Homo sapiens: one gene and its partner. The protein of the gene in region 2 interacts with the protein of the main gene of each other region in a biochemical or structural test. Each region holds a gene or a part of one and is shown on either strand. Other genes may lie near its edges.

Region 1 (3,500 bases), on a different chromosome or scaffold from region 2:
CGACCTGTGAGCTGATACTTTGTCACCTTACTGCTCTATTTTATTTTTCTCTCTTGAGATGCAGTGTGGTGCTGATAAAATGGCAGAAGCTTTGGAGTTGAATAGATGTGGGTTTGAATTCTGACTTCCATTGCCTGCCTCAGTAGCCTTGGGGTTTTCTCCTGTACCTTGAGAGGTGTGTGGAAATGATATATCTATAGAGGTGGCTGATGTGGTTCCTGGCACATAGTGCTAAACAAGTTGTAATGGTTTCAATTAATTGAGCACCTAATACTAGCAAAGTATCGTGATGAATGAAACACCGCTTAGCTGCTGACAGCTTACCAGAGAATCTGGGTGACAAGTAAAAATGCTTATACTTTTAGTGCCCTTCCAAGTTCTGTGGAAGAGAAGATATGAGAAGGATGGATTTGGATGGCGGCAATGGGAGGGCTTCATGAAAGTTGTGAATTTGAAATGACCTTGAGGAAGGTCAGAGGAAAACCTGAAAGGCGTGCTAGTATATTTGTACTGTGGAATCTTCTATTTATATAGGCAATAAAGGACAATTGGAGCTGTCCTGAGGAGAGTCACCTGATGCAACCCCTTACTGATGTACCTTCTTGTTCTTTGAGATGGTTTAAAAAAAGAAACACCCCAAACTTTTCATTAGAGACATGGGTGAGTGGCCCAGTGAAGTGAGTGACAGGGGAGGCAGGTGTGGCAAGACAGCGATGTGAGCATTTGGTGCCCTGTCTGCTGGCTGCTTAGCGGCCTCTTCACTGTGCTTCTGGGTTTGGCTGTCTTTTGGATGAACAGCTTTGCCAGAGGGTTTTGCCGAGGATAGGTGAATTCAATGAGAACAGGTAAGAAAATGAGTTGTACTTAGAGCAGGACAAGGATATTGACAACTGAATTCTCTAGGGGGTAGGGTTTCTCTCACCTCATTTTTCTTCATTCTCTCCATTAATTGTGGCAATGTTTACCTTTCAGATTTCACTGATTTACGGTCCTGCAATGTCCAGCATCCCAGTTTTATTGAAGAATGACTTAGACTGTGTTTCCAATTCATTGGCAATTGCCTGAGGAACTTTCATTTAGACTTTTTGTGGGATTTTACTAAGCTCTAATTGGACCTTCCTTTAATTTTATAATCGTGTATTGTGTATGACTTCTTCTTGCCAAGGTGCCTAAGAGGAGCTGACAGCTGTTTATTTAGTATATGCAGTGGTTTTCAAAGAGCAGTCTCTGGAGCAGCAGCAGCAGTAACAGCAGCGGAGCATCTCCTGAGAGCTTGTTGGAAAGGCAGATGCCCAGGCCCCACTCAGACCTGCCAAATCAGAAAGCCTGTGACGGGGTCTGCAGTCTGAGTTTTAATAGGCCCTCCAGGTGATTCTGATGCGCTAGAGCATCAGAAAGGTAAAGAGGCATTTCTGATATATAGTTACTCTTCACAGTGCTTGCAGGTTTTTGTCAAGTAAGTGAAAACACATGGGTATGTTATGGAACGCTTTATTTACAGTATCTCTTGGATGTTTGATTTGTAAACCACATGCTAACCAGGCCTTGATTACTTTACAGGTTCATGTTTATTTTATAGAATTAATTCTGCTATGACTTTAAGTTTGCTTTTCTTTCTTCTGGGAAACAAATGTGATTTGGAAGGTGCTGTAGTTTGAATGTATTCCCCAAAGTTCGTGTGTTGGAACGTAGTCCCCCATGCAGTAGTGTTGGGAGGTGGAGCCTAATGAGTGGTGATTAGGCCACCAGAGTTCTGCCCTCCTGAATGGGTTAATGTTATTGTGAGAGTGAGTTTGGTAAAAGGATGAGTTCAGCCTCCTTTTCTCTCTCTTTCACCCATGCGATGCCTTTTGCCATGTTACGGTGCAGTAAGAAGGCCCTCACCAGTTGCAGGCCCCTCAACCTTGGACATCCTAGCCTCCAGAACTGTGCGGAAACAAATTTCTGTTCATCATAAATGACCCAGTCTCAGGTATTCTGTTATAGCAGCACAAAACAGACTAAAACAAATGGAAAAGTTTAAAATCTCCACTGACTAGAGATAAAGCAAGGTTAGCTTCCCAGGGATTTCAGCTGGAAGTGAGGCTTATAGGAGCCATTGGGAAGGCTGAGTGAACGGGGAACCTTTTTGTGTAAGAAAGGGAACTCTAAGCCTGGAAATTCTGAGCTTCTAATCCCTGGGGGTGGCACATGGGGGGCTGGACAGTAAGAATTGATAGATGTCCTCCTTCTCCATTTTTTTTCTCTCCAGGACACCTTACAGTGTTATTCATTTATTCGTTTATTCATTCACAATTTTTAGAACTGTTGAATATGTTAGCAGAGATATTATTTGATAGACATAAGTGCACCCAGGTCATTCCCAAATTGCAGGGAAACTACCAATCTGTTTAATTTACTTTTGATAAAAGATAGGAGGACATTTTTATTGTTTATTGCTTGGGATCTCCCAAAAAGAAGATTTCTAATTGGTTGTTCTTTCTCTATTACTACTAAATCTCTGAAGGAAGACATTTTAATTTTTTTAAAAATTAGGGTGGTTTATTTCTTGATAATTTTTATTAAGAGATAGGATCTCACTATGTTGCTCAAGCTGGACTTGAACTCTTGGGCCCAAGAGATCCTCCCGCCTTAGCCTCCTGTGTAGCTGGGACTACAGGTGTGTACCACCATGCCTGACATAGTTCCTGATAATTTTGTCTCAGTTCTCATATTTTACTGGCAATATGAATTCAATCTTAAGTAATGTTAATGCATATCCTATAGTTGTCTCCAAATAAGTAGACTTGATTTGCATATAATTGAAGCAACATATATTTCACATACTTATGCCTAGATTCAGTATCTAGCCAGCAGCTTGGTATCCTGGCACTTAGAAGATACTCAGTAAATATTTGCTGTTATGACAGGTTTGCATAACATGTCTATACTGTATTGTTTGTCTAAATGAGGAATTTATTGTCTGTCTAATTAAAGATCATCTTGGCAGCTTTCAGATGCCATGCAAACATTAAATGTTGAGTTTAGATTTGCTTCCATCCCCTGTGGAACCTGGCAAGTTGTTTTAATTTCTCTGTGCCTCAGTTTCCTCATCTGTAAAATGTAAGTGGAAAATGCATCATCAAAGGATTAAATGATTTAATAGATGGAAACGTACATGCTCAAAGTGTGCTCCCATGGAGTCAACACCTAAAGGGCAGGGATGGTGATGGCAGAACCCCCCTCATTACTGCTGCCCCTTGGTCTGTATCCTTCTTTACCTGTATCCTTCTTTACCTGTATCCTTGTCTACCTCCTTGCCTGTTCTTTTTCACTTTAACAGAATGTGGATTTAAAATCCTAGCCCTATTTTCTTTTTTCTTTTCTTTTCTCTTTTTTTTTTTTTTTTTTTTTTTTTTTTTTGCGATGGAGTCTCACTGTGTCGCCTAGGCTGGAGTGCAGTGGCGCGATCTTGGCTCACTGCAACCTCCACCTCCCAGGTTCAAGCAATTCTCCTGTCT
Region 2 (3,500 bases):
AAAAATTAGTCAGGTGTGGTGGCGGGCGCCTGTAGTCCCAGCTACTTGGGAGGCTGAGGCAGGAGAATGGCGTGAACCCAGGAGGTGAAGCTTGCAGTGAGCCAAGATCGCACCATTGCACTCCAGCCTGGGCGACAGAGCAAGACTCCGTCTCAAAAAAAATAAAATACAAAACAAAATTAGCCAGGCATGGTAGCACATGCCTGTAGTCCCAGCTACTTGAGAGACTAGGGCGGGAAAGTCACTTGAACCTGGGAAGCGGAGGTTGCAGTGAGCCAAGATCACACCATTGCACTCCAGCCTGGGCAACAAGAGCGAAACTCTGTCTCAAACAACAACAACAACAACAACAACTTTTAGCCTAGAGAGAAAATGAAACAACTGGCATGACGCACTGGGGTCCTGGCTGACCCCAACATGGAGGCTCAGCATCTCAGCGAACCCGCTGCACAGCCTGAGTCTCAGGACACACACAGGGCTCAGGACTCGCTGTGACACTGACAGGTCACTTAGGCTCCCACTCACACCACCAATGCTGGTACAAGCAGGCAAATAAATACAGGTGATCTACACAAGGGAAGATGCTGGACTTGAGCGTTACTCTGACAAGACTTGATTCTGTGCATAGCAACTGAAGATGAGTATGCAGAACTTAGCAAAGATTTTCAAGAGAAAATAATGTAAGGATTACGTAATTCGGGAAATAAAAACCTGAAGGGCAATTTCAACTAAGAATGGCGACTACCTGCTCACCATCTTTTGGAGAACGAAGAAGAAATGAATGGTCTGAACAGACTTAGCCCGACAGAGCTGCCCAATAGAGAGGATGCCAATGTTAAATGACCACAAGAAATGTAACATCTCTTTTTAGGACACCCTAGATAAGAAATCTTCCAACTGGTCCTTCAGGAGAGTGTCTAAGCAGTCTTGGATGAGCTACATCAACAGGTCTGCAGACCACAGAGCCAGCAATCAGGGACCACATTCCATGTAGTACAAAATTTAGAGGTTTCCCCTTTATCAACAAGAGACCCAGGTGCCAGCATGTTACTACCAGATCCAGTTCTTCTTAGGACAGTGTGGCTCAAAGGGATGAGACCTTCCAGACACTGGTATCTGAGCATCTGTGGCCTGCCCCTGAGTTGTCAAGATAATTTCCTTATCTCTGAAGGAGTCCAGACAGGAATGCTTCCACTGCTGGGTGGGTGCTCGCCCCTCTTGCTCCTTAAGCGCCCGGCTCACCCCCTTGCTAGCACAGGGTGTCTTACACAGTTTATGGGACTTTTCTGTGAACTACCTGAGGGCAAGAACCATGTCCCACTCCCTCCTTGCTCCTCAAATATTTTATAGGAAAGCAGTCCACAGTCTCACACAGAGGAAACATGAAGTTTAAGTTCTAGCCCTATGAGGACAACACCTACTTTGATACCAGGCGTCACACTCTACAGCTTTGTTCAAGCTGAGGAGAGTTCTCTTTCCTTATCTGTGTGTTCCTCAGAACACAAAGTGGGACTCCTGCCAAGTCACCCTTGACTTACTGTGAGGCCTTCCTTAGAGAGGCCTCACCCTGCCCGGTACCCCCTGAGTCACAGCAGGGTGGCTCTTGTTTCTCAGAATGACACCACACCCTTCCACATGTGTCCAGTGGGCTGAAGTCTCCTACTCTACCAGCCAGTATGTTTTTAAATCCATTTACAATCTGAATTATTAAACATCCACTGGGTATAGAAGAGTTTCCTAAGATACTGAAGAATTTGAATTGTCTGGGGATTATAGACTGATTTTTAATACAGCAGACTTAACCACTAAGTTATTTCACCCATATTACCCCCTACAACGAAGTACTGGTTGAATCAATCACAGGCTGCCTCATCATCAATCAGGGCTCAAAGCCAGCCTTTCTCTAGGATGTCTTCCTGACCTCAACCCAACCCCAACCCCAATCCCTCCGGCCAACCCAGGTGTGCTGAGCACCACACAACTTCCACTCATTTGGGCACAACGTGGAAAGCAGCACTCTTTAGGCCGACCCACCCGCACACTGAGGAACAGGAGAATTCTGACAGCGGCTGGCCCCACAGTGTGTGCTATGTGCCCAGGACTGTTATGCGTGCGTGACACGTACTCATCTCACCCTACAAGGAAACAGGCAAAGACTGGAGAGAGGATGAAGCCTGCCTGAAGTCACAGAGCTAGGACATGCACACAGGTTATCAACCCAAGGAATCTCAAGCATATTTAACTTTTGCTTCCAAAGATACTTTTAAAAATGAAGAACAAACATGTAACAAGATAAGCAAATGATACACAAGTAAAACCGCTGCTTAAAGAAAAGTAACTTTTAATGACAACAATGTCTTCTAAGTACCCATTTTCACCAGCTACTGCTCTAATTAGCTTTGGTAAATAAATCACTTAGTTGTCTGATACAGAAGCAAAAGTAAACTTTTTTTTCTGATTAGACACAGTGGATACATTTTACAAAACCAAAACTTCAATCTACATTGAATAAATTTAGGTTCTATTGTATGGTTCACAAAATCCATACAAATTATGTATTTTGTGGGAAAAAATGTATTAAACCTGTGAGATTAGTTACTAACTTGGTTTAAAGAAACCTGAATCTTAACTGCCTAATTTGATTCTGTGGTACAAAAATGTCACACAGCAAACCTGCCTTCAAACTAATTGGTGTTAAAAACTGGTTTGCAAAAACAAAAAGTAGCTCTTTCATACGGTTATTCTAAAGCTAAATGGAAGACTGTAAAATGCCCAACAATGGAACAGCTGGTAACGCTCAAAACACAAAACCCCTGGGCTTGCATCTAGGGGGATGTTTACATGGAACCAATCCCACCCTGTTTGCTATTTACTCAATACCCAAATGATGGCAATATAAGCAAGTCCATAGGTAACATGCACTAATTAAGCGCTCGAGAATTATATACTCTAAAAGACACATTAAAAGTCAGCTGCAATCCTTACTGTTTGCGGATAGGATAGGGGGCGTAATCTGTCATAATCTTCTTGTCCAGCTGTATCCCATAAGCCCAGATTCACCGGTTTTCCATCTACCATAACATTGGCAGAATAATTGTCAAAGCTGTAGAATGGAATGAAAATGGTTAGTCACAGGTGTAGAAGCTAAGTCACTGTCCCAGCCATCCTAGAGAAGGTGTGCCAAGAAAAAGGCTGGGGACGGGCCTGGAGGCTGCCACACCAGCAAATGTCCCTGCAGGCACAAGGAGGAAGGCGGCACGGGCAAAACTTGCGGGAAACAAACCAAACCCAACCCAAAACTTAAGAGAAATGAAAGAAACAAACAACAAGCTATTTAAGTGAAACAAATCACCGTCAGAAATAAAAACATTTTACTTTAAACAAAGTTTAAGACTTTTATCCCCAGAAGAAATAAGGGTACAATTAGCCCCGCTTTCAAATCCTACTTGTTGGGTTTTTCATGTACTTATGTTGCTCATTTTCAGCAAGAGAGCTAGCTG

Evidence for each region.
Region 1: the proteins of RAC1 (region 2) and IQGAP2 form a complex in vitro, tested with the Homo sapiens proteins (one study listed by BioGRID).

Annotation. Positions count from the first base shown.
Region 1 is NC_000005.10:76,409,785-76,413,284, forward strand, and holds part of IQGAP2 (ras GTPase-activating-like protein IQGAP2), read left to right. Parts: intron 1-3,500. UniProt on the Homo sapiens protein: Binds to activated CDC42 and RAC1 but does not seem to stimulate their GTPase activity. Associates with calmodulin.
Region 2 is NC_000007.14:6,391,527-6,395,026, reverse strand, and holds part of RAC1 (ras-related C3 botulinum toxin substrate 1), read right to left. Parts: intron 3,104-3,500; coding exon 2,986-3,103; intron 1-2,985. UniProt on the Homo sapiens protein: Plasma membrane-associated small GTPase which cycles between active GTP-bound and inactive GDP-bound states.